Regions from separate parts of the Homo sapiens genome. Here regions 1 and 2 are each linked to region 3. Evidence: fine-mapped expression QTL. A gene starts in region 3. Each other region holds a variant in brackets. All regions are shown on one strand. Distances are from middle to middle. Region 1 overlaps LINC01504 (long intergenic non-protein coding RNA 1504). Region 2 has its middle 75 kb from the start of ZFAND5. Region 3 holds the start of ZFAND5 (zinc finger AN1-type containing 5).

What was found. PIP is the estimated chance that this variant, and not a neighbour inherited with it, causes the effect.
Region 1: its variant is fine-mapped to the expression of ZFAND5 in whole blood (INTERVAL, PIP above 0.99).
Region 2: its variant is fine-mapped to the expression of ZFAND5 in whole blood (INTERVAL, PIP 0.97).

The regions. Positions count from the first base shown.
Region 1 is chr9:72,319,005-72,329,980 of GRCh38, reverse strand. It overlaps LINC01504 (long intergenic non-protein coding RNA 1504), which reads right to left. Exons shown (of 5, transcript NR_110952.1): 3 at 1,260-1,317. Among named protein-coding and RNA genes, the nearest start is that of LINC01504, 19 kb to the right of the region's middle. The variant C/T (reference allele first, on the strand shown) is at 4,533.
Region 2 is chr9:72,434,524-72,445,499 of GRCh38, reverse strand. No RefSeq gene overlaps it. Among named protein-coding and RNA genes, the nearest start is that of ZFAND5, 75 kb to the right of the region's middle. RefSeq lists an enhancer at 1,048-1,307. The variant G/AG (reference allele first, on the strand shown) is at 5,513.
Region 3 is chr9:72,358,689-72,369,664 of GRCh38, reverse strand. ZFAND5 (zinc finger AN1-type containing 5) reads left to right here and starts at 4,457. Exons shown (of 7, transcript NM_001102420.3): 1 at 4,457-4,969; 2 at 6,059-6,195; 3 at 8,878-9,037; 4 at 9,444-9,555; 5 at 10,144-10,247. The coding sequence starts at 8,887. RefSeq lists silencers at 4,219-4,598, 4,609-5,438 and enhancers at 4,046-4,750, 4,751-5,454.

The DNA of each region.
Region 1 (10,976 bases), 40 kb after region 3:
CTTTCATACACAATTTAACAGCTAACACTTTGATAATATTGAGGGCTTACGTGTGCAAGTGTTCTACATAAATATTACCTATGAAGTAGGTAATATTTTTATTCCCCACTTTGAAGATGAGAAAACTGAGACTCAAGGTTATTTGCTCAGTCACAGAGCTAGTAAGTGATAATGCCAGGATATTCAAACCTAGACCCAAGTGCACTCATGCTCTTAACCACTGTGCTATCTTGCTTCCCTGAAGACTCTAACAACATTTGGTCCTCAGAACCTATTCCTATGAAAGGATTTCAATGGCTCTTGAGCACTTTGCTCTCCATGACTTTTCCAGGAACCATGCTGATATTTCCATTGTTGACATCATCCCAGTGCTGCCTGCAGTTGTGTTTCCTCTTATTTATTTTCCTTATTGGAAACTAGAAGCTACAGTTATTAAATGCATTCAAATAGAGCTGCTCAGGGGAACAGACTTTCATGAAGGCCATACTCTTTAAAGGCTAACATAAAGCTTCCAAGCTCCCCCACCTTAGGAATCAGAGAAGGATGAAGGGCAGGAGACCCAGAGAGAGATTCTGTTGTCCTGACCTGAGCAGTAGACTATTCTATGCTTGTTCACCAAGAATGAGTAGCTGGGAGAGCAGAAATCCAGTTTAGGAAATATCATTCCCCAAAGAAGGAAGTCATTAACCAACATTTCTTCCTCTCTGTTAAGGTATGTGAAATGTAAGGAGAATGATTAAGAACCTAACAGGTAACAGTGATTAAGAGAAGAGGACTGGCCATCAATGGTAGACTGGATTAAGCAAATGTGGCACATATACACCATGGAATAGTATGTAGCCATAAAAAAGGATGAGTTCATGTCCTTTGTAGGGACATGGATGAAGCTGGAAACCATCATTCTGAGCAAACTATCTCAAGGACAGAAAACCAAACACCACGTGTTCTCATTCATAGGTGGGAATTGAACAATGAGAACACTTGGACACAGGGTGGGGAACATCACACACCGGGGCCTGTCATGGGGTGGGGGGAGGGGGAGGGATGGCATTAGGAGGAATACCTAAGGTAAATGACGAGTTGATGGGTGCAGCACACCAACATGGCACATGTATACATATGTAACAAACCTGCACGTTGTGCACGTGTACCCTGGAACTTAAAGTATAATAACAAATGTATATATATAAATTTTTTTTAAAAAAGAGAAGAGAATTGGAATCAGATTGCTTGGGTTCAATTCTGGTTTCATGACTTACTAGCCAAGTGAATCTTTGTGCAAATTACTTCAACTTCTCCAGATGTCAGTTTCTTCATCTGTACAAGGAATAATAATAATGCCTATTTTATAAGATTGCTGTGAAAGTTTAATGTAATTATCTATTTAAAGCTGAATATAACAAGTGCTAAATAAATATTAGATATTTGTTAACACAACTTGGGAAAGCAGGTGGTGAGGGTTGTATTAGCTTCCTAGGGCTTCTGTAACAAATGTCCACAAACTGAGTGGCTTAAAACAATAGAAATTTATTCTTCACAATCTGGGGCCCAGAAGTCTGAAATTTATGTGTTGGCAGGAATTCACTCCCTCTGCATTCCAGGTGCCTATATCCCTCCAATCTCTGCCTCCATTTTCACATGGCGTTCTCTGTGTGTCTTCTCTTCTGTCTCTTTAAGGACACTTATCATTGGGTGTAGTCCAGGATGATCTCATCTTAAGATCCTTCACTTACTTACATCTGCAAAGACCCTTTCTCCAAATAAGGTCACATTCACAGGGTCCAGGTTTTATTTATTTATTTATTTATTTATCTGTCTATTATCTGAGTGGAGTCTTACTCTGTTGCCCAGGCTGGAGTGCAGTGGCATGATCTTGGCTCACCACAATCTCCGCCTCCCAGGTTCAAGTGATTCTCCTGCCTCAGCCTCCCGAGTAGCTGGGACTACAGGCATACGCCACCATGCCCAGCTAATTTTTGTATTTTTAGCAGAGATGGGGTTTCACTACGTTGGCCAGGCTGGTCTTGAACTCCCGACTTCGTGATCCACCTGCCTTGGCCTCTGAAAGTGCTGGGATTACAGGCGTGAGCCACTACGCCTGTCCGGGTTCAGGTTTTAGAACAAGGACCTATCTTTTGGGAGGCTGTCATTCAAACCACTATAGGTGTTCAGAAACGTTTTCACTTCTCTTTTAACTACTTTCATTCCACTTTTGGCCGGGTACAATCTTTATGCTGTTTCCTAAATGCTGATGGTTCTTCCTTGACTTAGGACACTTTGCTAACTCTGTTAGGCTCGGTGCCATGGAGGATATAAAAATAAAACATCCTGGCTGGGCACAGTGGCTCATGCCTGTAATCCTAGCACTTTGGGAGGCCAAGGCGGGAGGATCATGAGTTCAGGAGTTTGAGACCAGCCTGGACAACGCAGTGAAACTCCATCTCTACTAAAAATACAAAAATTAGCTGGGCGCGGTGGTGTGTGCCTGTAGTCCCAGCTACTCGGGAGGCTGAGGCAGGAGAATCACTTGAACTCGTGAGGCGGAGGTTACAGTAAGCAGAGATCGTGCCACTGTACTCCAGCCTGGGCAACAGAGCAAGACTCCATCTCAAAAATAAATAAATACGTAAACAAATAAAATTTAAAAAAAAATCACAGACCACAAAGTAATACAAATCTGCCATGATCAAGGCCATCAGAGAAGTATAGATGAAGGCACTTAGAGGATGAGAGTTTACTTTGAAAATAAGCTAATAATTGAACTAGGTGATGGGTACATATGGGCATGTAGGTTGGGGTGTGTAGGGCTCCTTCTACGTAAGTGGAAGGAATAATGAAAGCAAATGTAAAGAAGTAGGATAGCATGGAGTATGTATTGAAAACAGCAAATTGATTTTGCTTTGGAACAGGGATCAATAAACTGGCCCATCCAGCCTACCATCTGTTTTTATATGTGCCCTGAACTAAGAATAATTTTCATATTTTAAATGGTTGAGAAAAAACAAGATAATTAAAAATTTATAACATGAAAATTATATTAAATTCAAATATTAGGATTCATAACTAAGCACAGCCACACTGTTTTGTTTACATATTGTCCATGGCTGCTTTCACACTACAATGGCAGAGTTGAGCAGTTGCGACAGAGACCACATGACTGAAGAGCCTAAAATATTTTCTGTCTGGTTTTTTTTTTTTTTTTGATGGAGTTTCCCTCTTGTTGCCCAGTCTGGAGTGTAATGGTGCAGTCTCAGCTCACTGCAACCTCTGCCTCCCAGGTTCAAGCGAGTCTCCTGCCTCAGTTTCCCCAGTAGCTGGGATTACAGGCAGATGCTACAATGCCCAGCCAATTTTTGTATTTTTAGTAGAGACAGGGTTTCACCATATTGGTCAAGGCTGGTTTTGAACTCCTGACCTCAGGTCATCTGCCCGACTCAGCCTCCAAAAGTGTTGGGATTACAGGCGTGAGCCACCATGCCCAGCCTCTATCTGGTTCTTTATAGAAAAAGTATGCGGCCAGGTGTGGTGGCTCACACCTGTAATCCCAGAACTTTGCGAGGCCAAGGCAGGCGGATCGCTTGAGCTCACAAGTTTGAGACCAGCCTAGGCAACATAGTGAAACCTTGTCTCTACCAAGAATACAAAAAAATTAGCTGGGTGTGGTGGTGTGCACCTGTGGTCCCAGCTACTCGGGTGGCTAAGGCGGGAGGATCGCTTGAGTCCCAGAGGTGGAGGTTGCAGTGAGCTGAGATCATGCCACTGCACTGCAGCCTGGGTAACAGAGTGAGACTCTGTCTCAAAAGAAAAAGAAAAGAAAAAGTTTGCCAACTCCTGCTTCAGAAGAACCCTCAGGGGCATAAAGGAAATAGCAGAAGAAGATATGCTGGTCCAGTATTGCCATTTGGCCTTTGGTAACAGCCTACATTCTTGACTTTGCTCAGCCTTTTTCTACCCACCTAAATTTTCCCATCCCAAATATTATCCTCTCAAGACCTTAATTGGTTATTTGCTAAGTAACCTGAGAGCTAATTTTGCGATCTTTTTAAAGCTGTGATTGAATCATAACAGTTTAATGTATAACTTATTACTCCTCCTAGGTAACATATTTGGAATTTAGGGGAACCCAAACCAAAAAATTGCTTCCCCCTGGCAGAACAGTGGGAAAGATATTTGCAAAAGTGAGCCTTCCTTCAACTTTCATGTCACACCTTATAGGCAGCCAATTCTACCTATCAAAAGCAAACTTGGTTGTTAGTTTTGCTGTTACCCTTTCAATTGGTTAAGTTACTAGTATGCCATTTGCTGCTAAGTTTACCCTTAGGGGAGAAAAATAACGGCAAGAATTACTTTACAATAATTGTCAACCACTGAGAGTTAAGTCTCTATGCCCCCTTTAGCTAATAAGGTAGGCCTGGGTAGCTATCATTAAGTCAAAGATTTTTTCATGAAGGAGGAAACAGCTCCCTGATGAATTTGAGATGAGATTAGAAATGCTGAAAGCAGTGTTCTCAAACTTTAGCATAGAGAAGAAC[C/T]GCCAGAGGTCTGTTAAAATACGAATCCGCTAATCTTACCCCCAGAGAATCTGTGTCTCCAGTGGAACTCAGGAGTTATGGGGGGAAAAAAAATGATGAAGGATCCAAGCTACCTCCCACAAAGCAGTCTTTATATTTGGTTCTTTACTTGCTCCAAGAATCCCTAAGTTGTTAAAGTAACAGACAATGTAAGTAGACAGAAGCATCATTTTGAAAGACTTTCCTGTTCTCTCATTCTGTTTAACTGACCTTTATTCCCAGTGAGTAAACATGAATCAAACCCTAGTCTAAGTAAGAAAACGTGATTTGAGGGAAGGGCTGGATCTTTGAAAGCAGTATAGAATGGAGGTTAGGAAGGGAACTCTAGACAGAGGCTGCCTGATTCAAATCTCACCTCTGTCACTGGTGCTATGTGAGCTTGGGTGACAACTCGAATCTCTCTGTGCCCTCGTTCCTTCATCTGTAAAATGGGAATAACAATATTATCTATGTCTCAGAGTAGCTGTGAGCATTAAATGAGTTACTACATGTAAAAAGCATAAAATAGAAACTTTTAGTACATTTCAATAAATATATAAAAACTTATTGGAGAAACTCTTGTGTGACCTCACATACCTTGTAAGAGTGGCATGAGAATTAGAGCATGTTCATAATTAAACAATTATGATTGTGCTATTTACTCCAAGTTAGCCAGGGGCTTGTTCCTTAGAGACCACTGTCATTTTCTACATTTGTCCATGAAGTTAATCCACATATTTACAAATCCTAAATGTAACTTTACTTTTATTTTCAATAGGTAACAAGTATTAAGAACCATATCACAAGGACTTTGATAACTGCTTGACTTTGTGTGCTTTATCTCATTTATTTCTCAAAAAAAAAAATTCCATGGGGTAAGTACTACTACTAGCTCCATTTTACAGATGAGAAACTGATGTTGGCCGGGTGTGGTGGCTCACGTCAGTAATCCCAGCACTTTGGGAGGCCGAGACGGGTGGATCACCTGAGGTCAGGAGTTTGAGACCAGCCTGGCCAACATGGTGAAACCCCATCTCTACTAAAAATACAAAAATGAGCCAGGTGTGGTGGCGCACGCCTGTGGTCCCAGCTACTCGGGAGTCTGAGACAGGAGCCTTGCTTTAACCTGGGAGGCGGAGGTTGCAGTAAGCCAAGATCTCGCCACTGCCCTGCAGCCTGGGAGACAGGGGAAGACTCTGTCTCCCCCACCCACCAAAAAAAAAAGAAAAAACAGAAAACTGATGTCACACAGCTAGTAGGTAAGTGCAGCTGGGACTCAAATCTAGGTTATCTGGCCCCATTCTTCTGTGGCAGTAGTTCTCAACATGGGGCAATTTTGCCCTAGTGGTAGACTGAATAATGGGCCCCCAAACATGTCTACATCCTAACTCACAGAACCTGTGAACATTACCTCACATGGCAAAAACACCGTGCAGATGTGATTAAGTTAAGGATTTGAGATAAGGAGATGAGCCTGGGTTATGCAGGTGTGCCCAAGAGAATCACGACAGTGCTTCTAAGAGGAAGGTAGAAGGAGTCAGAGTGGAGGAGAGGGCGATAGGATGACAGAAGTCAAGTTTGGAAAGATGCACTTTGAAGAGGTAAATGAGGACACAAGCCAAGGAATATAGGTGGCTACTAGAAGTTGAAAGAAGACAAGGGAATGGATTCTCCCTTCAGAGCCTCCACAAGGAACCAGCCCTGCTAATATTTTGATTTTAGTCTCATAAGACTCATTTCAGACTTCCAACCTCTGGAACTGTGAGAGAATAAATTTGTGTTTAAGTCATTAACTTTGTCATAATTTCTTACCACAGCAATAGGAAACTATACCACTCTCCAGGGCACACATGCCAGTGTCTAGAGACATTTTTTCCTATTGTAGCAGGAGAGGTGGTACTACTTGGTAGTATCTAGTGGGTGGAGACTCAACCTCCTGCAAGACACAGAGCAGTCTCCCACAACAAATAATTATCCAGCCCAAATGTCACCAGTGCTTGACAGAGCAGGAGCACCGTCATGTTGGACAAACACCACCACTTTAAGTTCCAGCTCTCTTTCTAGTGTCATGCATTTCAAGGAAATCACTTCTCTTCTAACTACAAGCAGCCAGAAAGAGCAGACAGTAAAACACAGATAAACAGAGGTGGGGGGAAAGGCTCTTGGGTAACTGCCAAACTTCGCCCTCATACAATGGGCCCCGGTAAAACAGTGGGCCCCAATAAGCACATTCCTTTCCCTTCAGGTGCACTAAGTTAGGGAAGCTAAAAGCAGAATTGGGGGGTATGCCTGCAGCTGCAGAAAGATGTATGGGAACAGACACACAACTCTCCCTCCCAGATAAGCACAACAAAGAGACACAGAAGCAGTCCAAGCCTCTGATAAACTCTTCCACCCTGAATCCTTAAAACCTCTTAGTGTGTAAGAGAGTGGGCTCTGACCTAACTCGGCCAGAAGCCCCTCTCAGGTTTGTTTTCTAAAATAAACCTGTCCTTGTTGACTGTCGAGCCACCCTTCATGTTTCTTTCCTATTTCTTTAATTCTTACAGTGCTGAGGTTGAGAAACCCTGCTGTAGAGCAGCAGAACAGGAAAATCTGCACGGAATGCCAAATACTTCCAATCTGTAATCAGCCTTCTACCTAGCATAACTCAGGCTGGTCTTTAGCACATCATGGACATGGATGTTGTATTCACCTGGTTTATTGCTAACCCACTAAAATCAATTATGGTATTAGAAGAAGCTTTTTTATCTATAGAATATAGTTCATGCTCCTCCCTCTGGTTTTGAAGGCTCACCACAGCTCACTCCAACTTACTTTTCCAGCATGATTTCTTTTTAATCCCCTTTGCAAACCAAACATCCTTGGAAAAAGGGCAACTCTATGTAGCACAGGGCAGGAACGAATGAACTGTCTCCTCAATGACATAGTTGCATGCTCTTACAGCGAAGGTATTCCACTTGAGGCTAAAATTTCATGGCAAGAGTCCACTTGTTCTAGCTTGGTCATGTGCTCTCCCTAAACTAATTCCCAAGGCCAGGGCAATTCTATTCTCATTTTATCCAAAGAAAGCACTGGAGACTTTGAAGATCATGTTTATGTCTATGTCATCCTGGAATTCTCCAAGGAATGCATTCTAGTGCCTTGCACATGTTGACATGTGAATATTGTTTGAATGAATAGCAGAATGAAAGACCAACTCTCTGGGATGCATCATCTTAACCTTCATCTCTCTGTCCCTTATTTTGCAGTTATAGCATGTGATACATCATTTCTGTGACAGATTTAACCTAAGTATTTGTAGCAAAAACTTTTTAAAAACCTAAATTCCTGGTCCAGAAATATGCTATTATTAAACTAAAGTTCAGAGTTTACATCTTCATAATAGAATATAGGTATAAAGTTATTGGAAAGGGACCAGACTATATGATTATCACTCAGAAATACAGCATTTATTAAACAAATCAACAAAGAAATGAGTATAACTCATAATTAATCAGTCTGGGCTCACTACATACTTATGTTCAAACTAGTAAATATTTTAAGTTTTCTTGAATTACAGCTTTAGATCAGGGTTGGCAAACTATAGTCATGTGTCACTTAGCACTGGGGATACCTTCTGACAAATGTGTTGTTAGGTGGTTTTGTCCTTGTGTTAGCCTCAGGGAATGTACTCACACAAACCTAGATGGTATAGCTTACTACACACCTAGCTTATATGGTGTGGCCTATTGCTCCTATGCTACAAACCTATTCCTTCTTCAAAGGTAAACTAACTTTAGCTTACTGTAACATTTTTACTTTTTTAAACTATTTAATTTTTAAAAATTTTTGACTTTTATAATAAATTTAGCTTAAAACACATTGTACAGCTGCTCAAAAATATTTTATTTCCTTATATTTTTATTCTATAAGCTTTTTTTCATTTTTAGAATTTTTACTAGTTTTTTACTTTTTAAATTTTTTGTTAAAAACTAAGACACAAACACACACCTTAGCCTAGGCCTGCACAGTGTCAGGATCATCAATATCACTGCTTTCCACCTCCACATCTTGTCCCACTTGGAAGGTCTTCATGGCAATAACATACATGGAGCTGTCACGTCCTATGATAACAATGCCTTCTTCTGGGTACATTCTGAAGGACCTGCCTGAGGCTGTTTACAGTTAACTTTTTAAAATAAGTACAAGGAGTCCACTATAAAATAATGATTAAAAGTATGGTATAGGACCAGGCACGGTGGCTCACGCCTGTAATCCCAGCACTTTGGGAGCCTGAGGCAGGTGGATCATGAGGTCAAGAGATGGAGACCATCCTAGCCAACATGGTGAAACCCCGTCTCTACTAAAAATACAAAAATTAGCTGGGCGTGGTGGCATGCGCCTGTAATCCCAACTATTTGGGAGGCTGAGGCAGGAGAATCGCTTGAACCCAGGAGGCGGAGGTTGCAATGAGCCGAGATAGCACCACTGCACTCCAGCCTGGTGACAAAACAAGACTCCGTCTCAAAAAAAAAAAAAAATATGTGTGTGTATATATATATATAGTATATTAAATACATACACCAGCAAGTTGTTTATTACATTATCAAGTATTATGTACTGTACATAATTGTGCTATATATGTATATATATATAGAGAGAGACAGAGAGACAGAGTCTCCCTCTGTTGCCAGGCTGGAGTGCAGTGGCACAATCTCGGCTCACTACAACTTCCACCTTCCAGGTTCAAGCAATTCTCCTGCCTCAGCCTCCCAAGTAGCTGGGACTACAGGCGCCTGCCACCACATCCAGCTAATTTTTGTATTTTTATAGAGATGGGGTTTCACCATGTTGGCCAGGATGGTCTTGATCTCTTGACCTTGTGATCCACCTGCCTCGGCCTCCCAAAGTGCTGGGATTACAGGCGTGAGCCACTGCACCTGGCCAATTGTGCTATATTTTTATATGACTAGCAGTGTGGTAGATTTGTTTACAACAGCATCACTACAAACACTTGAGTAGTACATTGCACTTTGATGTCAAAATGGCTACAATGTCACTAGGCGATAGAAATTTTTCAGCTCCATTATGATCATCTTATGGGACTTCCCTCCCATGTCCAGTCCATCCTTTTTTTTTTTTTAGACAGAGTCTCAAAATCCCAGCAATTTGGGAGGCTGAGGCAGGCAGATCACCAGAGGTCAGGAGTTTGAGACCAGCCTGGCCAACGTGGTGAAACCCGGTCTCTACTAAAAATACAAAAAATTAGCCAGGTGTGGTGGTGGGCACCTGTAGTCCCAGCTACTTGGGAGGGTGAGGTAAGAGAATTGCTTGAACCCGGGAGGCAGAGGTTGCAGTGAGCAGAGATTGTGCCATTGCACTCCAGCCTGGGCAACAAGAGCAAGACTCCATCTCAAAAAAAATATATATATATATATGTATATATATATGTGTGTGTGTGTGTGTATATATGTATATATATGTGTTTGTATATATATACATATAGATACATATATATAACAAAGTTTACTTCTCATAGTGAAGATAAATTCTCATCACTAGTATTGATTCTGGAGCTTTCTTTTCCATGTGTTATAAGGCGAATTGTGTTCCCCCAAAATTCACAGGTTAAAATCCTAACCCGAAAACTTCATAATGTGACTGTATTTGGAGACAGAGTCTTTAATTAGGTCACTAAGTTAAAATGAAATCATTGGGGTGGGCCCTAATCCAATATGCCTGGTATCCTTGTGTGAAGGGGAAATTAGGACACAGACATCTACAGAAAGACACCATGTGAAGACGCAGGGAGAAGGCGGCCATCTACAAGCCCAGCAGAGAGGCCTCAGAAGAAATTGATTCTGGTGACACCTTGATCTTGAACTTCTACCCTCTAGAATTGTAAGAAAATAAATTTCTGTTGTATAAGGCACCCAGTTTGTGGTACTTTGTTATGTCAGTCCTAGCAAACTAATATACCATGTTTCTGCCTTTACATACAAGTAGGCAACTATCATGTCTTCTCTTTACCAACTTCAATATCTTCTTTCCCTTCATACATTCATTTTGGCTTATCCATTGTCTACCATATCTTTTTTTTTTAAATATGTTTTCCAAATATTGTATCCATTGGTTCAGCACTTCTACCTCTAGGAAATTTTCATACTAAGGAAATTATACTAAAGAAGCACAAAGCTTTATATTATACATAAAAATTTGCATCCCAGCAATGCATATCATTTTCTCCAATTTTGAAAAATGATATATTACACATACTTTATTTTACAAAAAAGTAAGCCCAACATAATACATGTGTGATGAAATTTTCAAATAATGTGAAAATTTATAAGCAAAAAGTAAAGCCTTCTCTTACATTTACCCAGAAACCCACTCCCCAAAGAGCACTATAAGAGCATATTATCTGCACATATGATTATAAATATA
Region 2 (10,976 bases), 76 kb before region 3:
TTTTCCTCCTCCTCCTCCCTTTCTTTCCTCTTCCTCTTTCTCTTTCTCTTCCTTTTCTCTCTTTCTCTCAGTTGATAACTGTGCCTACCACACCTCCAGGAAACATAAACCATCAATTTTATAACCTAAAATCCAATCAACCTCCATACACATCCATTCTTCCGTTCCTCCCATGACAGAAGAAGAGGAGCCCTTCTAGGCAAAGCTAATTCTGCTGCTTTTGTCCTTATCCTGTTTACTCCTGCTTATCCTGGAGTCTGTGCCGTCTTTTATTGTCTCTCCTCTGCCTTTTCACTCCTCCTTCTCCATGAGCATCTTTCCCTTACTATAAAACATAACTAACTTGCTCCCACTGATGAATATCTTTTCTTTCTTCTTAATTCCACTTTATTTCCCAGGTGTCTGTGGAGCGTGTGCTATGTGCCAGACACTGTGCTGGGTGATGAGAATACTTTGGGAAATGAAACATCCAAACCCTGGCTTCAGGGAGCTTACAGTCTAGTGAGAGAGCAGATGATAAGTAGGCATCTAAATATAAATTTATAAATTTCCACAAATAGGGCACAGTGCTAGAGAGTAAACAGGGAGTCCTCTAAGTTAGGGTAGCCAGGAAAAAGCTCTTATCATTCCATCACTTCCATTACTGGAGTGCAGACTGTTATCTCTCACCTGGGTTCTAATGAATTCTTAACTGGATTCTCTGCTTACAAATTCCCTTTTTTGGTCCTTTTCACGTATTACTACCATAGTTCAGTGTCTAAAGCAGATCCAAACTTGTCATTCCTCTATTTGTGCCTTCAGTAGTTTCTCAATACCTGCAAGCCCAGATACTTGAGCCCAACATTTTAAAACACCTAGATGAGTAAACAGACTAGAGATTGCTCTATAAACAGAGACCAGTGCTGTGAGCAATGTTTGGTGCTGATGTTAATCTCCAGAACTCCCCTGGGCTTGTTATTTTTGACAGCCATTCTCTATTTTGATTTGTCTTCTTTAACAAAACAAAACCAAATGAAGAATGAAGAGCATCCAATGGAGGACCTAGAGCAATTGCATTCTCTCCTATGACTACTAAGTAGTTCTAAGAAACAGGTTAGGCTGTGGAACCTGCAAAGTGGAGAAGAAAGTGGCTGAAACTCTGGAGAAAGAAAAGGCCACACAGTTGACTGCTGCAGGAGACCAAATTTGACATTCTTCTTTAAAATGCTATTAGGAAAACTGGTCAACTAAAACAAAAAGAAACTAAATTTCATGAATTTCTCATTTGGTGAAATGGGCTTTTGTGAATTGGCCATTGAGTGAGTTTTCTTCAAGAGTCTAGGGGAATTTGACATTCTGACTATTTGACAGACTCCACCAGGGGGAAGTGAGTTATATGAGTCAAGATTAATGGCATGGGCAGAGGAGCTTCTGTCCCACTTCCTTTTTAGTAGCTGAGAGCATACTGTGTCTCTTGTTGCCTCTCTGTCAGCTTGTGGATAGCAAAGTGTGGGCCTAAACTTCACGCTTCCAATACGCCGCCAAAGAGAACATGGAACTTGATTGAGGGCCTGATTAGGAGCTTGATAGAAGATGTCTTGACAAAAAAGATGAGATGACCTGTTAGTGGTGAGCCAGAGATGGTTCACCGGGTCAGAGACCTGCCTATTAAATTATAAGAAACTTTGCAAGCCAGTTGTTAAACACAGCAATACTTAAAAACAAAGATATTTCAACTTACATTTAAATTAATTCTATTAAAAATAAAGACAAGAAATATTCAAAATTGTCACTCCATAGTTATTAGACTACATTTTACATATTATCTATGTTCTTGAGCTTATATGTATCTATTGTATCTGTAAGGCAGATCTTTTTCCAACTTCACATTTGGTGACACCACACTGGTACCTTGAAATGCCAAGGCAGAAATGTTTGCACCACAAAAGTCTGCAAATACCACAAATCAGGGCTCAAGTGACTCAGAACCAACTGCTAATCATACTGCGGTCTACACTGCAGGGCAGACTTCCTGTTTGAAGAGCTAGGAGAGGTTAGCACAGTGACTCATGCCTGTAATCTCAGCACTTTGAGAGGCCAACTGGGGTGGACCACTTGAGGTCAGGAGTTCGAGGCCAGCCTGGCCAACATAGTGAAACCCCATCTCTATTAAAAATTAAAAAAAAAAAAATTAGCCAGGCATGGTGGCACATGCCTGTAATCCCAGCTACTTAGGAGGCTGACACACGAGAATTGCTTGAACCCAGAAAGTGGAGGTCAAAGTAAATGGCACCACTGCACTCCAGCCTGTGCGACGAAGTGAGACTCTGCCTCAAAAAAAAAGAGCTAGGAAAGTCACACTGGACCTCTGCAGCACTAACAAGGTAAGGTCATGTCAGCAAGGATAAGAATGGTCCATGCATTACACCAGTTACAGGCTTCAGTTCATATGCCAGCAGAACACCCCAAAATTGCACCAGTCCCTCCCAGTGGTCATGAGTCCAGGGAGCAGCGCGGACCAGCCATGACACAGCAGAGACCAACAATGTCAAAAGGATGCCAAGAACTCCCAATGTCCTCTGTCCTGCTGAAGTCGCTTAAGCCTCACATTCAGATGTCATCTTGAAGAGAAACAGAGTGAGCAGAAACCTGAGAGACTGAGCACTTTATCTAAAAGAGATAAAGAATTTACCTAAAGTCATGATTTTCTTTATAAAATTGAATAAAATTCTGGTGAGACTAAAACTGCACTTGTCACCCTTTGGGTTGGGGGTGGTTGAGTGAGGATGATCTTTGCTGACAACAGACCTAGTATATAAAAAAGGAGCCATACTTTGTTGTTGTTGCGTATTTGAAAACAGCGTAAATAACTTTACACTTCTGCTACAGTGGTGATTTTGAACTTTTTTCTCTTTCTGTGACTCTAGCCAAAGAGATAGTGAACTTTTATTAAGGGATAAATACTATTAGTATCTTCCATTTGCAGATAAAGAAATCAAGCCTCAGAAAGTCTCTGTAACTTATACAAGATGACCCAACCAGGAAGAGGATGAGTCAGGTCTTGAAAGGAATGTTGGTATGTCTGCAAGCGTTCCGCCCTGGTTTTACTGCTTGTTATCAACCCTTTTCAGGCCTTTTCTAGGTCCTTTTGGCTGTATAGGTACTTCTGCAAGAACTGAGACAAAACAGGAGAGAGCATCCTCTCAGGGAAGCATCTGGAAGAGGTAACCTGGGGACAAGTCAAGTCAGGAAGACTATTACTTTAGAAACTGACCATGAATACTTTAGGATCTAGGACAAGAAATGAAATGTCACTAGAAAGGAAGTTGAGATCAGAAACTAAGTGCACAAATCATGAAGAAGGTAAATGGGCCACAGGACTGGCAGCTAATAGAGTTAAGAAACTGGGGCAATGACTGAAGTGTGGAGAGAGGTTGGCCTGTGAAGAACTAAATCCAGGAATCCTGAGCAAGTGTTCCTTTCACACAGGGCCCAGTTCATCTTGCCAGAGCAGCAGTAGCCTCATAAAGGAGCCAAACCAGACATGAAAACAGCCTCTCTTCACTCACTCCCTCCCACTGCCCTGCATGCCCCAAGACTGCTATCTCCATCTGACTCTTAGTTGTCTTGAAAAATAAGTATTTTTGTTATTTTATGGAAGTAATTTATGCAGGTAATTTTAGAAATTCAAATATAGAAAGGCTTAAAAGAAAAGCAGAAGTCACCTGTCCCAACCTACTCCTTTTCCAGTCCAACTCTTCATACTTTGCATTCAACTTCCATAAATTTCCAAATGCCCCATCCACTCCCATGGCTCACACAGAATTGCACATGCCAGAACCTGTCCCAGTATTTCTTTTCTGGTTTTATTATCCCAGAGAGATGGGGAGGAGCCCAACACAAAAGTCCCAAAATATAGAGCCTTGGTGAAAACAAATAGATTGAGAGCCAGAGTAGGCACGGGAGGGAAGCAAGGGTGTCCACCCAGGCCCCTTTTGTTTCACTGATTTCCATGGGCGGATGGATGTTTCTCCCCATTGTCTGGGGTGTATTGTATACTTTGCAAGCTCAAGGGAATGAGTCAGCTTCTCGCTCCTCCTTTGCTTCCCATCTACTGATAATGCAGCTCTCTACAACCTGTTGATCTCCATTAATAGTAAGAAGGCCATCAAACACAATTTGAGTTCAAAAACACATTTTTCCGTTTTGGTAGCAGAACTTTCTTCTGAGGTCTAGTGTTGCAGTGGCTCAAGTTTTCCTTTGTCTGCCATCCTAAAGGACATCATTCTTGTATTCACTCATTCAGCAAACATTTGCTAAGTATCCACGCTGGGCCAGGCATGTGATCAGCACAGTGGACACAGTGTAAGTGCACAGTCTGTGCCCTTGTGCTGGAATGATCTAGGAAGAAAGTCAGATAAAAAGGCCACCACAAGTCGGTTTGATGGAAGCTCTCACAGACAAGTTTCCATGGACGCATTAGGATAGGCACTGCACTCCTGATTGAGTGGTCAGGGACAGCTTTCTGGAATGGGGATGTCGAGGTGAGTTTTGAAGGCGAACTATGAGCTAGGGTATCTGTAGAATATCTAGGGGCACTGAGTGTGGCCAGAACAATCTTTCTCTGATCACAGCCCCAAAACTGCTGAGATATTCACAGTACCTGGCCAACATCTGTCAATTTTCTGGATTAACATCCTAAATCTTGACTTTTTAGGCAACGGCACCTGAATCCCAGCAGATATTGGCTGTTATAAGCCATTTCCCCAGTTTGAGAACTCTATCTTTGGTCCCAGGTCTCTGCAGAGCTAAACAAGGCACCTTGTTCCAGCAGCCAGCCCTCCCCTGCTCTTTGGGTCTGCCTGGACTTCTGGTCCAGCTTTGTTGCTTCCCGAAACCCAGTTCCAATATTTGTCACCCAGATGCTTTCTTCCTCTCAGAAGGGTCTGACCTCTTCAAGGCCCTGAAAGAGGAACTAAAGTGCTTCTCACAGCTACATCCCCACTGTTTCAAGAAATTATATGAAGGATAGAGGAAGACACATGGAAGTCTCCGGAACTTTAGCCAGTCCAGGGATTTCACTTCAGTGTTTCATACCTTTATCTAAACACTTGGGTAGCTGTTAAACTGAAATTTGTCCCAGGAAAATAATATTTGGAGCAAATAGATTGCAAAAAAAAAAAAAGGTTTTATTTTGGTGGAAAGAAAGCAATAACACTAAGGGATAGAAAAGTGGAACCAGGACGGGCGTGGTGGCTCACGCCTGTAATCCCAGCACTTCGGGAGGCCGAGGCCGGCGGATCTCAATGTCAAGAGGTTGAGACCATCCTGGCCTACATGGTGAACCTCCATCTCTACTAAAAATACAAAAACTAGCCAGCGTGGTGACGGGTGCCTGTAGTCCCAGCTACTTGGGAGGCTGAGGCAGGAGAATCACTTGAACTTGGGAGGCAGAGGTTGCAGTGAACCAAGATCATGCCATTGCACTCCAGCCTGGATGACAGAGCAAGACTCTGTCAAAAAAAAAAAAAAA[G/AG]AAGAAGAAGAAAGAAAAGAAAAGTGGAACCATTGAGGAGAGGAAACAATTCAGGTCTGAAGGGCTGACAGGTTGAAATTTCACAAGTTTGCTCAGGATTAGACCTGTTTGAAAGAAACAAGGAGAGAAACAAGGTAGGAAAAGAAGCAGGGGAAGAAGGAATAATAAGGGCACTATTAGAAGGAATGACTGAGCTGGGGCTGAGCCATAAGCAAGTAGGAGGAGATAAAATGCTAAAACTAGAACCACATAGATGGACAATTTTATAGGAAACATACATTAAAATAAGTACTGAAAACAGGCAAAGGAGAACAAGATAGCAAAGCTTGAGTGATACCATACTTGGTTCTTAGAGAATCATTTTGGCTTCACCTGATTGCAGAAAAGTCCAGCCAAAGACCCATCAAATATGCTGTTTCCTGTTGTCATCTATATGCAACTTCTAGCTCATTACATCCCTAACATGGCTTCCCCAGTAGGGAACACACTTGTACCTGGGGCAAGAGTTGCTCCTCTTAACTTGTGATGTGCAGGGCGGGTTGAGTTCTGCTAAATTTCAAAGCTAAAATTTTCGAAGCTAAAATTAAATTTCTTCTGCCCACTTTGTAAATTCCTTCTGAGTTACTTCTCTACCCCTCCCTGACTCATTTTCTGAGAGTAAATAGTCAAATGAACAGAGTCCAGTTATTTTCCGTGAGTGGGAGAAAGGGATTATAGCAACTCCGAGAAATCATTAGTCAAAATTAATGCATAGCATGAAAAATGTTACACACATGCACAGGTACATACACTTACATTCACACTTGCCACCTCCAAGAGCCTCTATCTTCACTAACAATCTGCTAAAAAGGCCAATCAAATTTTAGCCTAGATGAGGACATGTACTTTCAATTTGTCTATTTGGTACACATGGATGGCTCTTTTCTGCATATTTTTTCAATAGAGTGCCCAACAGGGAATTGTAGCTTAGTATCTTAGAGATCAACTCACTGGTGGGAAAATGGTCTGGTCAAATTGTTCACCCACTATTGAGAAGTGGATCTTTCCAATGTAGAAAAAATATCAAAGAGGGAATTTTCTACCCATGTGTATCTCTTGACAAAACTAGAGAAAAAAAGGTTACTGTGCACTAGGAGTTTAGAATAAACCTGGTGAGAACACACAAAGGAATTTCGTGAAGCACCATTGGGGACTACTTACAGGCCTTAATTGAAAGTAGTACATTTAGAAAACCATGTTACCCTGAAAACATTATTTATTTTTCTCTATGAGCTTTGGAAAGTATTGATTTGTAAATATGGGTTTCTTTGCCCACTGAGTCTTTTGGAAACATGTTCTGGTTATCTTTATGAGCCCAACCTTTCTTCCTGGCTTTATATGGAAATTAATTTCTTTTGGCACCATACTCACTTCTTGATCTAAGGCATATATGAGGTTCAACTACATCTCTTCAGAGCTTTGCAAATACTCATACTGAGTCTTTCTGGAAAAGGAAGAACTTTAACCCCATCTAAGGGAGTCTGGTGAAGAAGAAGGACTGTGGGTCACTCTAGCAAAACATAGTATTCCTTGGTTCAAGAGGGAACTAGTTAAGCCAGAGCATGCTAGGGTAAGCATTGAGGAAGAACTTTTTTTGACAAACGCAATGTCTAACAAATTCTAAAACTGGCTATCAAGGAATATCTGTAAGAGCAAACACTTGAAAGAATTACCCATGTTACATCACCATTTCTTTTAAATTGTTTAAGCAGTAAGAGGTTTATAATGATAAAAGCTCTTAACTATACTAGGGGGGAAAAGCCACACTCACAAATCACTTATATTATGAAGGCTTATTACAAAGTTACATAAGAATATCGGCTCAGGATATCTTGCCATTGCACTCCAGCATGGGCAACAGAGTAAGACTCCGTCTCAAAAAAAAAAAAAGTTATCTGCTGGGTGCAGTGGCTCTCACCTCTAATCCCAGCACTTTGGGAGGTCAAGGTGGGTGGATTGCCTGACCTCAAGAGTTTGAGTCCAGCCTGGCCAACATAGTAAAACCCCATCTCTACTGAAAATACAAAAACTTAGCCAGACATGGTGGCACATGTAGTCCCAGCTACTCAGAGGCTGAGGCATGAAAATCACTTGAACCCAGGAAGCGGAGGTTGCAGTGAGCCGAGGTCATGCCACTGCACTCCAGCCTGGGTGACAGAGCAAGACTCTATCTCCAAAAAAATAAAATTAAATTAAAAAATAAAATGTTAGTTTTAGGCCTGTCACCGTGGCTTACACCTGTAATCCCAGCACTTTGGGAGGCCAGGGCAGGCTGATCTCTGGAGGTCAAGAGTTCGATACCATTCTGGCCAACATGGCAAAATCCTGTCTCGACTAAAAATACAAAAACTAGCCAGGTGTGGTGGCTCACGCCTGTAATCCCAGCTACTTGGGAGGCTGAGGCAGGAGAATTGCTTGATCCCGGAGGCGGAGGTTGCAGTAAGCCGAGATCGTGCCATTGCATTCCAGCCCGGGCAACAGAGCAAGATTCCATCTCAAAAAAAAAGAAAAAAGAATGTGGGCTCAAATAAGAAATTCATCATTAGCCACACTCCTCCTCTAGGTCCTAGGTGTTCCAGTGTTGGGCTGCAGGCTTCTAGGAGCTTCAGAGGAATAACTCAACACTCAAGACTGCAATCCAAGCTTGAATGACCCATATTCTTCTGTTTGACTAACGTCTTTAACTTCCAGAAGAAGGAACTTGGGTGAATTCTGTATCATTCAGTATGCTGTAATCTTGTTATGTAGAAAACAAAGAAAAGCAAAAGCAAAGAATCTTGGTGTAACAAACCACCTTTCTCCATAAACAGACTCCTTGGTTAATCTACTGTGGCTAGGACAGCAGGGTTTGTTTGATTAAGAAACAATGCCATGTGGATTACTGGATTCTGTAGGAAAGAACTGGTTGGGGTCACTTTTCTTAAAAGGCTTCTTTGCCACAAAAATATCCAGTATATAAATAAGATTGAAAAAGAAAAAATAAAAGGAAAGATATATGCAACACATGTTGCAGACTATTAATACCCCCAATATTAAAAATATCTAATAAATAAGAAAAAAAATTGCAATAGAAAAAATGAAGAAATGATATTTGTCTTTTTGAGGGTGGGCTACCCAGCATCTGAATGGCCGTCTAATGCAGGCAAGTATTGGTAGAAAGTAAGCCCCCATTTTCTACTATAGAAGCCAAAGGGGCCAGAGAATCCCCCACTCATCCATTGACTATCCCGTTCAGACATCTGACATAGACTCAGTCAGTCAAGTGCCTCCACCTGGGACTCTGAGTCTTGAGGAATGGTGAAAAGACGGGAGCAAGTGAGAACTTATTCACAGTAGTGTTGAGTGTTCCAAGACAGCAGTGGTAGGTTGTAGACAGGATACCAATGACAACATATTAACTGTCCTCTCTTGTGGTATTAGATGTATTGCATTTCCCAGTGCCTAGCCCTCCTTTACCAAGCCTGGTTCTCCAACCTTCTCATCGATTCTCTAAGCTCTCCCATATCCTTCCAGCAAAATCTGTTTCTACCTAGGTTAACTATAGTTGGTTTTTGTTGCTTATAACTAAGAACCCTGACAAAGAAAATGACTGACAGTTCTCAAATGAAGCAACATATGTGGATAATAAAAGCAGGGAAAGATGTTCAATCCCACAAATAATCAAGAAATAGTAAGTAGAGAATAGGATATGCCTCATCTCTATGTTAGTGAACATTAAAAGAATTGTGAGAATCCAGTGTTGGCAAGAGTGTATGTAGGGAAACAAGCAATCTTAATAAACTGTTTTTTTGATGTTTTGTTTTTTTTTTGAGATGGAGTTTCACTCCTGTTGCCCAGGCTGGAGTGCAATGGTGCGATCTCGGCTCACTGCAACCTCCACCTCCCGGGTTCAAGTAATTCTCCTGCCTCAGCTTCCAGAGTAGCTGGGACTACAGGTGCCCACCAACACACCTGGCTAATATTTTTGTATTGATAGTAGAGACGGGGTTTCACCATATTGGCCAGGCTGGTCTCGAACTCCTGACCTCAGGTGATCCACTTGCCTCAGCCTCCCAAAGTGTTAAGAAACTGTTAACAGGAATGTAAGTTGATGCAACTTTTCCAGGGGGCAGATTGGAAATATATACCAATATTTTAAATGTGTACACCCTTTGATCAGCAATTCCTCAACTAGCATTTATCTTAAAGAGATAATTAGTCAAGGTAGAGCAGCAGTCTTGATATGACAGCAACGTTCATAATTTAAAAATGGAAGCAATTTAAACAGACATCAGTAGAGAGATTGTTAAATTATGATAGACCTTTACAAAAGAATATTATTCAGCACTAAAAAGGCAATTAAAAAGGTTTTATGTATATTTAATGAGAAACATCTGCACAGCATGGAAGAGACGAAAAGCTTTCAGAAGAAAAAGTGTTGCATAATTTCATATTTTAAATGTGGAAGGCAGAATTCTAAGATGTCCCCATGATCTCTGTTCTCTGTTATACTTGTAATTATGTTACATTACTAGAAAATGGATTTTACAATGTAATCAAGATTGCTAACCAGTTGACTTTGAGTTCATCACAAGGGAGATTATCAGGTGAGCTTGACCTAAACCCATGAGCCCTTAGTAGCAGACCTCATAGCAAAAGGGAACATCAGAAATTCAAAGTGCAAAAAGGACTCAGTGTACCTTACTGACTTCAAAATGGAGCGATGGAAGGGACCACATGGAAAGGATCTGATCTCGAAGAGCTGACAACAACCCCCAGCCAACAAGAACATTCATCCTATAACCACAAAATAATTAACAACCTCAAAGAGGCAGGAGGTGGATTTTTTCCCAGAGCCTCCAAATGAGAGCCTGGCTAACACCTTGATTTCAGCCTTGTGAGACTCTAAGCAGGGGACCCAATTGAGTTGGTAGACTTTTGATAATTTCTTATATAGCAATAGAAAGCTATAAACTGAATAGATATATACATATATATATTTCAGTTATTGCTGCCTCTGGGCAACAAAATTGGGAAGGTGATATTTACATTATTTTTTATACCACTCTGGATTGCTTTCTTCTTCTTCACAGATATAGTTAGAAAAATATCAGGCCAGGCACAGTGGCTCATGCCTGTAATCCCAGCATTTTGGGAGGCCGAGGTAGGCAGATCACTTGAGGTCAGGAGTTCAAGACCAGCCTGGCCAACATGATAAAACCCTGTCTCTACTAAAAATACAAAAATTAGCCAGGCGTGGTGGTGCACGCCTGTGATCCCAGCTACTCAGTTGGCTGATGCACAAGAATCGCTTGAACCCAGGAGGCGGAGTTTTCAGTGAGCCAAGATCGTGCCACTGCACTCCAGCCTGGGTGACAGAGCAAGACTCTGTCTCGAAAAAAAAAATTAGAAAAATATATCTTAATATTTCAAAAAATGGAAACCA
Region 3 (10,976 bases):
AACCTCCACCTCCCAGGTTCAAGCGATTCTCCTGCCTCAGCCTCCGGAGTAGCTGGGACTACAGGCACCCGCCAACAAGCCCGGCTAATTTTTTATATTTTTAGTACAGACAGGGTTTCACCGCGTTAGCCAGGATGGTCTCGATCTCCTAACCTCCTGATCCGCCCATCTCGGCCTCCCAAACTGCTGGGATTACAGGCGTGAGCCACCGCGCCCAGCCTTAATTTTTAAATTAGTGGATTTGCTCTAAATACAATACTATAATCCTTTTAGCCAATTATTTTGAAAATACTTCTATAAAACAGTCCTTTACCTTGATCTTTGAAATCTGGGAAGGGGCTGGGAACGAAAGGGAGGAAGGGCACTATGTGAACGTCCAGTGACACATCAAAGTTTTGTGCTTTTTGTGTGTGGGTTTGTTTGTTTGTTTGTTTTTTGTTTTTGAGAAGCAGTTTCGCTCTTGTTACCCAGGCTGGAGAGCAATGGCGTGATCTCCGCTGACCGCCACCTCCACCTCCCGGGTTCAAGCAATTCTCCTGCCTCAGCTTCTGGAGTAGCTGGGATTACAGGCACCCGCCACCACACCCAACTCATTTTGTATTTTTAGTAGAGACAGGGTTTCACCATGTTGGTCAGGCTGGTCTCAAACTCCTGACCTCAGGTGATCATCCCGCCTCAGCCTCCCAAAGTGCTGGGATTACAGGCATGAGCCACCACACCCGGCCACTCTGAAGTTTTTAAGACCCTAGAAAAGGCTTTGTGCTTCACCATGTTCTACTCAAGCACAGACAGAAAATGAATAGTTACTTATGACCAAGTATTATAATAATGTCATAGCAGCAATTCTTGTCTCCATAATAGGAACTTATATGTCAAGATAAAATAACTTCAGGTCTTTTACATTTTACAGTGGACTAATAACTTATATTGCTATTTTTAAGGGATGTCAGTTTTCTCTAAGAAATTTAATTACATTTGCTCTTCTCCCATCATCAATCCCCTTTCCAGGCCTAGTTTACAAAGAAAAGTGTAAGAGAACCTGCAATGACTTTACCTGAGTTCTTAAGCAGACTACCAGGTTACCTACTTTAAGGAAATAAGCCTGGCTCCTTTGGCCATGGGGATGGTTGGAACTCAGACCTGGGTGAGTTTTCAAGATCCGTTATGATTGGTTATATGCTCCCATAGCATTCTATGCTTTTCTTTCAAAATATTTACCAGTTCATAATTATATATTATATGATAATATCTTTCTCCCCAAATGACAGTAAGATCCATGAGAACAGGGTAACATCTTTTTTTTTTACATGAATGTATATCCCAGCACCAAGTTAAGTGAGTGCCTGGAAAGTAGCAAATGTGCAAAACTTTTTTTTTTTTTTGAGACAGAGTCTCGCTCTGTTATCCCAGGCTGGAGCACAGTGGCACAATCTCGGCTCACTGCAACCTCCACCTCCCCAGCTCAAGTGATTCTCCTGCCTCAGTCTCCCGAGTAGCTGGGACTACAGGCACCTGCCACTCGCCTAGCTAATTTTTGTATTTTTAGTAGAGACAGGGTTTGGCCATGTTGACCAGACTGGTCTCCAATTCCTGACCTCAGGTAATCCGTCTGCCTCCACCTCCCAAAGTGCTGAGATTATAGGCGTGAGCCACCACACCTAACCAATATCACATTTTGAGCACGACCAACTTTGCTCATTATCTGTTTTTTTGTTTGTTTGTTTGTTTTGTTTTTGAGACGGAATCTCATTTTGTCACCAGGCTAGAGTGCAGTGGCATAATCTCTGCTCACTGCAACCTCTGTCTCCTGGGTTCAAGTGATTCTCCTGCCTCAGTCTCCCGAGTAGCTGGGACTACAGGCACGCACCAACATGCCCAGCTAATTTTTGTATATTTTTTAGTAGAGACAGGGTTTCACCATGTTGGTCAGGACGGTTTCAGTCTCTTGATCTCATGATCCACCCCCCATGGCCTCCCAAAGTGCTGGGATTACAGGTGTGAGCCACCACGACTGGCTACTCATTATCTTTTTTACAGAGGTTGGTTTCAGGCCAAAGTTGACCTTCCCTAATGACTATAGAGCAAAGCCCTTTGGCATGTTATATTAGAAGCATTCTCTTATATATTCTGTGTTTAGCAATTCAGTTTGTCTTTGGAGTGCAAGTGAAAATTTAAAATATAAGAAAACAAAAATAAAACAAAAACCTTCTTAGAAGTATATCCCTTAATCTGTTACACCAGTAATATGAGACTTTTTTTTTTTAAACTTTTCCCTTTCACATGGTGTGAGCCATCTGAAAAAAAGAGGGGTCACCTGATGCCATGGTAGGGTTAAGTCAATAGTTTTCAAACTTGTGTATGCATCAGAATCACCTGGAGGACTTATTAAGCCACAGACGGCTGTGCTAACCCCCAGTTTGTGACTCCACAGGTTTGGTGCTGGGGCCTGAGAATCTGTATTTCTAATAAGTTCCCAGGTAGTCTGGAGACCACATTTTGAGAACCACTAGAAAATAGCTGCTAAAAAGGAATCTTGGTATGTTTAGGTCCAATACCTGCAACATTCTTGATTGAAACAGTCTCAGAGAAAATTATAAATGGGTGATAGAGAAGATGAATTATCAGAAGGTGACATAATATTATGGAATACACTATTCAATAATGAGCTTGCCTCATTACCCTTAGACTTTTTTTAAAGTATGCTTCTTCAGGAATTATCTTGTTTCACTCACTATAACTCCAATTCTAGAGAAAGAAAAAAATTCAAGTTAAAATTCAAGTTATTTTTGTTCTCAATAATAATCACCTCCATTGCCTCCCTGCCCTTCAGTGCCCTGGGCAAGCCTTTTTAGTCATTGTTTCTTTATCTGTAGAAAGGGACATGATAATAGTACCTATCTCAGTGAATTGCTGTGAGGATAAAATGAGACCCTAAATGGAAAATAGTTGGCACTGAAAATGGCCTGTAAATGGTAGCTGCTATTTTTTTTTTTTTTTTACTAATTCATCTGCTAATTTAAGGAAATAAATTGCAGTGGTCGTGGGACCAGTGACCCAAACTACTTAAATCTCTAATACATTAATTGATCACAGTAATAAACCCGAATTTGTTAAAAAACAAAACAAAAGGTTGTTATGCTCCAGGTACTTTGCTAACTGTGGCGGAGAACTGTTTGATTTGGCAGTGGTGGCTCAAGCTATCAGTATAGCATTCCCCCAAATACAGATTATAAATAAGGACCACCTGAAGCGCAATATGGGCCCCCCCCCACCCCCGCTCCCACCCCGGAACAACCAAAACCATATCCAGGGGAGATGCGTAGGAATCTTTAATCACCCCAGGTGATTTTTTTTCTGATTACCAACTTTGAGAAACACTGAAGGGACCTCTTCTCCATTCTATATGTGGCTAATATAAACCCTAAACATCATTTCTATGTATTCGTTAGACCGTTGTTTACTAGAAAATTTCAGAAGTCCTTTCCGACTTAGTAATTTTGTTATTTTGAGTTGAACTGAAATTCACTTGGAGCGGTCAGTTGAAAATGTTTTTTGTTTGTGCTCTGAAAAGGTTCCCAGTGTTCCGGGTAAAGTCATCCTTTCACCCATGGGGGACCTGTGCCTCGTGCCTGAACTGCCCGCCTAGTACCTCCCCCCTTGAACTTCCTCTCGCAAGCCTCCTCCTCCCGCTTCATCTGGGCCTCGGGTCTAGCTTGTTTTGTCCCTTCGCGGCTTTTGAGTAGAACATTTGGTGCTTTCCCAGTTCACGACGCTTTGCTGGAATCGTCAATTTCCAGGGATTTCACAGGCTGGCCAAAACAGTTTGTTCAGAACAGCGCCGCCGGGGCATTGGCAGCCCTGGGCGGCCGCGCGTTTCCTCACTCCGCACAACCACCCGTGACCTTGGGCGAGCGAACGCACGCCGCCAGCTGCGTCAGGGCCACGCTCGGGCTGGACTTCGGAGCTCAAAATGGGTGTGGGGAGTGAGGAGGTTTCATAAACAGAAAAGACCTCGAAGCCATAAGGCAATTCTTTTCCTTTTCTGGGGGTGAATCCTTACGATTCTTGGGGGAGGGAATGTCTGCCCAGGGCTGGAGACAAAGCGTGAGAACTAGGATGGCGAAAAACGGGTTTGAATGAGAAAATCCGAAGGAGGGAGGCTGAGGGCGGACAATTGGGTTAAAAATAGAAACGCATCCTCCACAGGACTCGCTCTTCCCAGCTCCACCCTAGGGGCCGACTGCCAGGCCAGTGGCTGGGCTCCGCGAGAAGGCACAGCAACCCGTCTCGGCCCCGCCTCCTGGACCTACTGACAGGGCACCGGGGGCGTGGCCTTGGGCCCGCGACGTCACCGCGCTCCCCGCCGCCGCCGCCGCCGCCGGGGTTTTCGCTGACGCACGGGTCCCGCCCCCTCCCCCTCTTTTCCCTCACAGCCCGGGCGCCGGGCGGCGAGTGCGTTAGTCGGCCGGGACGCGGAGCTGTGTGCATCTCCTACGCGGGCTCGCTCGCTCCCGGGAGCCGCGCAGCTTCCCCGGCGGTGGCAGGAGCGGCGAAGAGCGCCATCAGCGGGCCCTTACGGCCCCAGGCCTCGCGGCGCGCGGTCCGCTCGCCCTCCTCGTCCGCCCAACCTGCGGCCTGTGGAGGCGTGAGGCGACGACAGGCGAGCGCCTCGAGCAGCGTTAGCCGCTGCGGCCGCCGGTCCTCCCTCCACCTCCTCCTCGGCCCCCCCTCGCTTCCCTCCTCCCACTTCCCGAGCTCCGGCGTGTCCCGGCCACGCTCGACGCTGCTGCAGGAACAAAGGAAGACCCCGCGGCGGCGGCGGCGCCACCTCCGCCTGCTGCTCCGACCCGCTCCCGGCCCGCGGCGGCGGCACCAGGGCGCCCGGCTCAGCCTTCCCGGAGGCCTCGGCCCGGCCTCATCGTGCCGGCTTCGCGCGCGAACCCGGCTTTCGCATTTGGGACCCTGCAGGGTGAGTGATACGGGGCTGCGGGTGGGAGCCGGGCTCCTTGTTGCCGGGCCGGGGGCGGGAGTGAAGGGACCGGGGCGCCGCGGGCCAATGGCGAAGCCGGAGCAGGCCGCGGATGGCGGCGTCCGGGGGAGGGGAGCCCGCCCGCCAGCCCAGGAAGCACAAAGACGGAGGCGTCATCCTGTCGTCGTGGCCCGAGACCTGGCTCCCGGCGTCCCTGGCTCGCTCCACAGCACGGTCGGGAAACAATGCACGGCGTGCCGCCTCTGCGGGGCCGGCCTCTAGGCCGCTCGCCTCCGCGGCGGCGCCCGGCGTGGGCACCACGACCCAGAGAAACAAAGAGGCCGAGGCGGCGGCCGCGCCCCCTGCCCGTTGCAGCCCCCCCTAGCTCTCCCCTAAGAGGAGCCGTTCGGGGTCGGGGGTCGGGGGTCGGGGATCCGCGTGGGGCCTGCAGGCGAAGGGCTGGCCGGGCCTGCTGAGCTGCTGTTCTGCATGACTCAGTGGTTTTCGGAGAGGGCCCTGTTGGGCTTTATTGAGTGAGGCCTTTGCTTAGAGGGGGATGGGGTATCAGTGGGACCCGAACTTGTTCCAAAATCCATTGGAACATGGGGCCGGGGGTTCTCGGCGTCGTCTTTTGGGCTTCTCGACGTCGCTGCGTTTTTATCCTGAGATCCGTTTTCATGGAGGAAATGGAACACCTCCTTTGTTTGGTGCATTTAGGCTGATGAATGTGAAATTTTTTGCTCGCTTTCCACGCACTCCGTGGAGGTGTGTTTTCGGGGAAGGGTCGGATTATCTTTATTGATTGAGTGTCTCCTAAGGGATAGCATCTAAGGAGATACCAAGATAAAGGAACATATAGGTCACACATCCCCGTTCTTAAACCTGGGATTTAGATACAGACTTCTAAAAACATAAACGAATGTATTTTATTCCTTATTTTTAGGATTTTTTTTAAAGAGTAGGCTTTCAGAACTCAGTTGGTGAAAATACTGCAATTTTATCTTTGAAGTTTTTTGTTAAAATGTTTCCCCACACCCCCCTAAAAAATTAAGGATTCTTTGTAGTTGTCTCCTGTTTTCTATCTCCCAGGCCCTGAAAAGGAGCCTTTAAAAGTCAATTCTACTCCATTTGGCAAAGAGGGAACTGAAATCTGGAAAGTAAGGACTTGCCCAAGGTCACTGACTTAGTGGCAGACTAGAGACTTGAACTCAGGTCTCCATTCCCAGGTGAGTGGGAATTCATGCCATCTCATCACATCATGTGCACCTGAAAGAACTGTATTCCATAGGTGTAAAAGCTCTTTGTTCAGAATTGGAATTGGAGAATTGTTCAGTTACACTCGGGTGTTTTTTTAAGCTGTAAGTTAGAGGAAGCCATAAACTTTATAAAATCTGCATTCTAGCTATACCTGATAGAGCTGACACGTGCATGCTCAAGTTGCTAATTACTTTAAAGGCAATAAATAGTAATGGTATTTTTTTCTAAAATACAAGGGGAATGCAATACCTAATGGGAACACACATCCCCCACTTCATCCCCTAAATCCTCACTAAATGAGGATTCTTTTTTACACTGTCTCCACTGTGCTTAGTTTTTTATCAACAACCTTGACCATTTTAGCTTTGACTATGCTTTCATCTTCTAGATTGAGATTGTTCTGTAGTTTTTCCTACATTAGGAAAAAACTAGCAGCCCTTTTTTTGTTTTCTTATGTTAGATATATGAACGCTGCATCCTTAGTTCTTGGGGTTGTGTAGGAGTTGGCAGGCTTTGAGATATAAATAGAAGCTGATTTCAGAGGCCCCTGTTGACTAGGCTTTATGTGAGAGCCTCCATCCAGCTCAGCTTGTCACATTGCAGCCTTGTGACAGGCTGAAGCGCCCTCCCATGTGATCTGAGCTTCTGAGAAATATTAAAGCAAGCTGTGCACATGTGATGGCATTTAAAAGCTGGCTTTCTAGGGGAAAAAAATCTAAAAGATGGGAACCCATGTAGAAGACTCATGTCCTGGTACCTCTTGTGTGTCTCGCAGTTGAAAGTTATTTATAATGAAATGAAGGTAGACATGTTCTCTGAAGCAAAGTTGGAATACTTTGTTATCTCTGAGTGTGTGAAATCTTTAGATGGAGTATCCTCCATTTTATCTAAAACAAATATTTTAAGAATCAGATTAACTAAAATTACTTAGGTAGGTTGATCGCTTGGCCTTAAACTTTAAAGCCAATGTCACATGAGACTGGGCCTCAGTGTAGAAAATGTAAGCTAGCATACTTAAACTGGTTTTAAGGAGTGACCCAACTTTCATGCATAGGGCAAACATTCACACATATTTTGTGCGTGGTGGGCATGCAAATACATACATATTTATCATTTGAAAGCATTTTTTGCTCCTATTATGCTCATTTAAAAACCCAGCTGAAAGTGTTTATTAATAAACTTCCTAAGTGATGTTGAAATGTTTACACTACCCTGCTCCAAAATGAGTCAGCTAAATTCCAGTTAATATTTAAAGAGACAGTGTCAACTAAATTAATACTGTTGTTAAAAGTAAGTTGTGGATCTTGGTCACTCCACACAAGCTAGATTGTCTTAATATTTGTATGGTGCACTTTTACTTACAAAAGGGAAGATAAAATGTTTTGGGGAATAATTACCAGGGGTCTGGCCAGGTCAAAATTGGTTAGTCCCCTTCTCCCATCTTCTAATTTTGGTAGTTAATACTTGTTAAAACATCGTTTTTTAATAACTCACTAAAAAGTGTATTCTAGTATGTAGTTGGAAAAAATGACTGACCACAAGTTACAGCACACGAATTTTCCTTTAAGCAAATGCTCTCAAATATGCTTTTTGTACATATGCTTATACATGTTTAAGATGACATGAAAACCCTCCACAACTTTATTTTAAAATAATTTTTCTTTAATATGTATTTTCTCATCCAGAGGAAAACTTATTAATAATTTAGCACAGCGTTTTAACAAGACTTTTAGAAAAGCAAATCTTCCTTGGAAACAAATGCTTGCTATGTAAAGCTTTTTCTGGTAACCCAGCATTGAATATTAACCATTACTAAAGGTTATGTGTATATATTGACTTTAATACATTGAATTTGAGCTTGGAACGGTTTTATTATTTTCTGGTATGAGGAAGACAAGCACTTGTTAAAATTAATAGTGCCTTTGGCTGAGAAATCTGGTTCATAATTTGTGTATTGCAGGTTCCTAGGCACTGGCTTTGACATACTCTGAAACTTCAAATGGAGAACGTAAAAGGAGTTTCGTAAACCAGCTGACCCTAAATTCTTAGAGATTTACTTGTTGGTGCCAGGGTAGCAGGAAGGGCTACCAGTTCTCTTTTCAGCCTTATATGAAGATGTTTCAGCATTAAAAAGTACAGATGCTCTGCCTCAGCAGATTTGTCAAATTACTGATGAAGCCCAGATATGTACAGGTGTTTTAAGAAAACTTTATTCATCCAGTTTAAAGAACTACCTATAAATATCAAGACTCAGTGATAATTGTGATTAGCCAATTAAGTAAAAACATTTGAAATGGTCTGCCTGTAGTGCAGCAGAGTGAAAAGTTAAAGATACCAGTTTCCCAAATTGATTAAAACATAACCCTGAGAGCTAACAGACCTTTTCATAAATTGAAACCAAGAATAGTGATAGGTAAAAATACCCTAATAATTGATAAAATTTCTTTTTGGGTTTTTTTTTGGTCCTAAAACAGTTTGCTTTTATAAAGGCAACAAAATATTGATAATTATCTCTGCCCACCCTTTTTAATGATTAACGGAATTTGGGCTTTTGTTAAAACTTGCGTAGCAATTACAACGGTATACCGATGATTATATTAGACTATATTTTGGTGATAACACTAATTTCTGAAATTTCGTTTCATCTATAGCAGAAAAATATGGCTCAGGAGACTAACCAGACCCCGGGGCCCATGCTGTGTAGCACAGGATGTGGCTTTTATGGAAATCCTAGGACAAATGGAATGTGTTCAGTTTGCTACAAAGAACATCTTCAGAGGCAGCAAAATAGTGGCAGAATGAGCCCAATGGGTAAGTTATTTCCAAGGAAAAACACATTTGAAAGAACTGGTGGACAGAAATACAGAACCAAGAATTGGGGCTGAGAATGCTGAAAGCACATGGAGAGAACACCTGATAAGAGCTTGAAATTCAAGCAACAGCCCAAGTGCTTGACATGACTGATCAGGAATGAATGACTATCTACAAGCATCTTATAGCTTTTCAGTTTTCTTTTTTGGGGTTATTTTGTTTCACACTTGTGTTCATTGGATTGACTTTTTAATATTTTTTGTTTGGATACTCAAGTATAGGATTACAGCACAGTGAATGCTTATATCACTAACCTAATTAAATGCAAGTATTTATTACTACGTCTTGATACTAAGTGAGTTTTTGTAGTGTTCATTGGTTCCTTACAAATCCTTTTTTTAAATAGGAACAGCTAGTGGTTCCAACAGTCCTACCTCAGATTCTGCATCTGTACAGAGAGCAGACACTAGCTTAAACAACTGTGAAGGTGCTGCTGGCAGCACATCTGAAAAATCAAGGTAAGATTGAACGTTTCAGAGTTTTTATGATATTACAAAGAAGAAATCAAGATGTCTGTACTGGTCCAATAATAAGTTAATAGATACCCTTGGCTTTGCAATCGAGGATTTCAGTGTCTTTTAATACATGACTCTTAAGTCATTGAGTAAAGATGTGTGTTACTTACACCTGACTCCCTAACCCCCTCAAGGATACTGTGTTGGAAATGCTGTGCTTTTTTATTTCTTTGTAATTGAGGTTTAGGGATTGTCGAGTGAGACTGTAGAATATTATTGGGCCAGACAAGGTGTTTTGGCAGAGCTGCCCTTTTGCCCTTAAACAAGTTACAGGCACAGCTAAAAATCCCTAGCTGGTTGTAAAATATGGTAACCTATACAAAATGCAGCCTCGAGTTCATGAGCCATTTATCAAACTTTTTTCTCAACCATTTGTGCTGGGCATCCAATTTTTTTTTAAACTTTAGATTATCTAGCTCCATTTGCTCATTTTGGAAATATTCTATAATTTAAAGTTGAACTGACAACTTATTCATTGTCTCAAGAAGTACCCTTAACACCTTTAAAAATTGTTTGCTTGAACTCAAATAGAAATGTGCCTGTGGCTGCCTTGCCTGTAACTCAGCAAATGACAGAAATGAGCATTTCAAGAGAGGACAAAATAACTACCCCGAAAACAGAGGTGTCAGAGCCAGGTATGTTTTTCATTTAATACTTGTTCAGTTCTGAATTTGATAGTGCAAGAAATGGCTGGTGGGGGGATTCTTTCCTTCCCATTGAAGGACCAAAGAGGAGGGAGAGCCATAAAATATAGGCCAAGCAAAGAACTACTATCTTTAAAAGTATCTTGAGTATGAGTATCTTGAAGTGTAAAATAGTCATATTTATTCTCAGTTTCTTCTCTGCTCATCCCCTGCACTACCCTTGTGCATAATGGGCAAAGTCTGTAATCTGGAGATTGGATGTGTTAAAAACTTGATGAAGTTAAATTTCAAGGGTATAAGGAATAATTTTATAACCAAAAGCAGTAACTTTAGTTTTGATATTGTCAATGTTGTGGAAAACTTTTAAGTAGAACAACATATTTGAACACTAGAACTTATTTGAAGTACAATATTCCTATCATATTTTGTGGGAGTTTGAAACTCAGTGTGGAAAGGCATTTTGGTTTTCATGAGATATGGTGACTTTGGAAACTTTGCTTATATAGCACAACCAGAAGTGCCCTGATGGTGGAAGAAGACTGACTTGAATTACCTGTACTAGGCCCTAGAACAAAAAGATTTCTGTGCTTTATATAGTGCACGTAGCTTATTTTATCAATTTGTTCTTTTTTGGCAGAGTGCTGATTAAATGCAATATAAAACTTCTGTTGTGAAAAAATACTGTCAGTGGTTATACAGTCTGCTTTGGAGGCTGGCTTT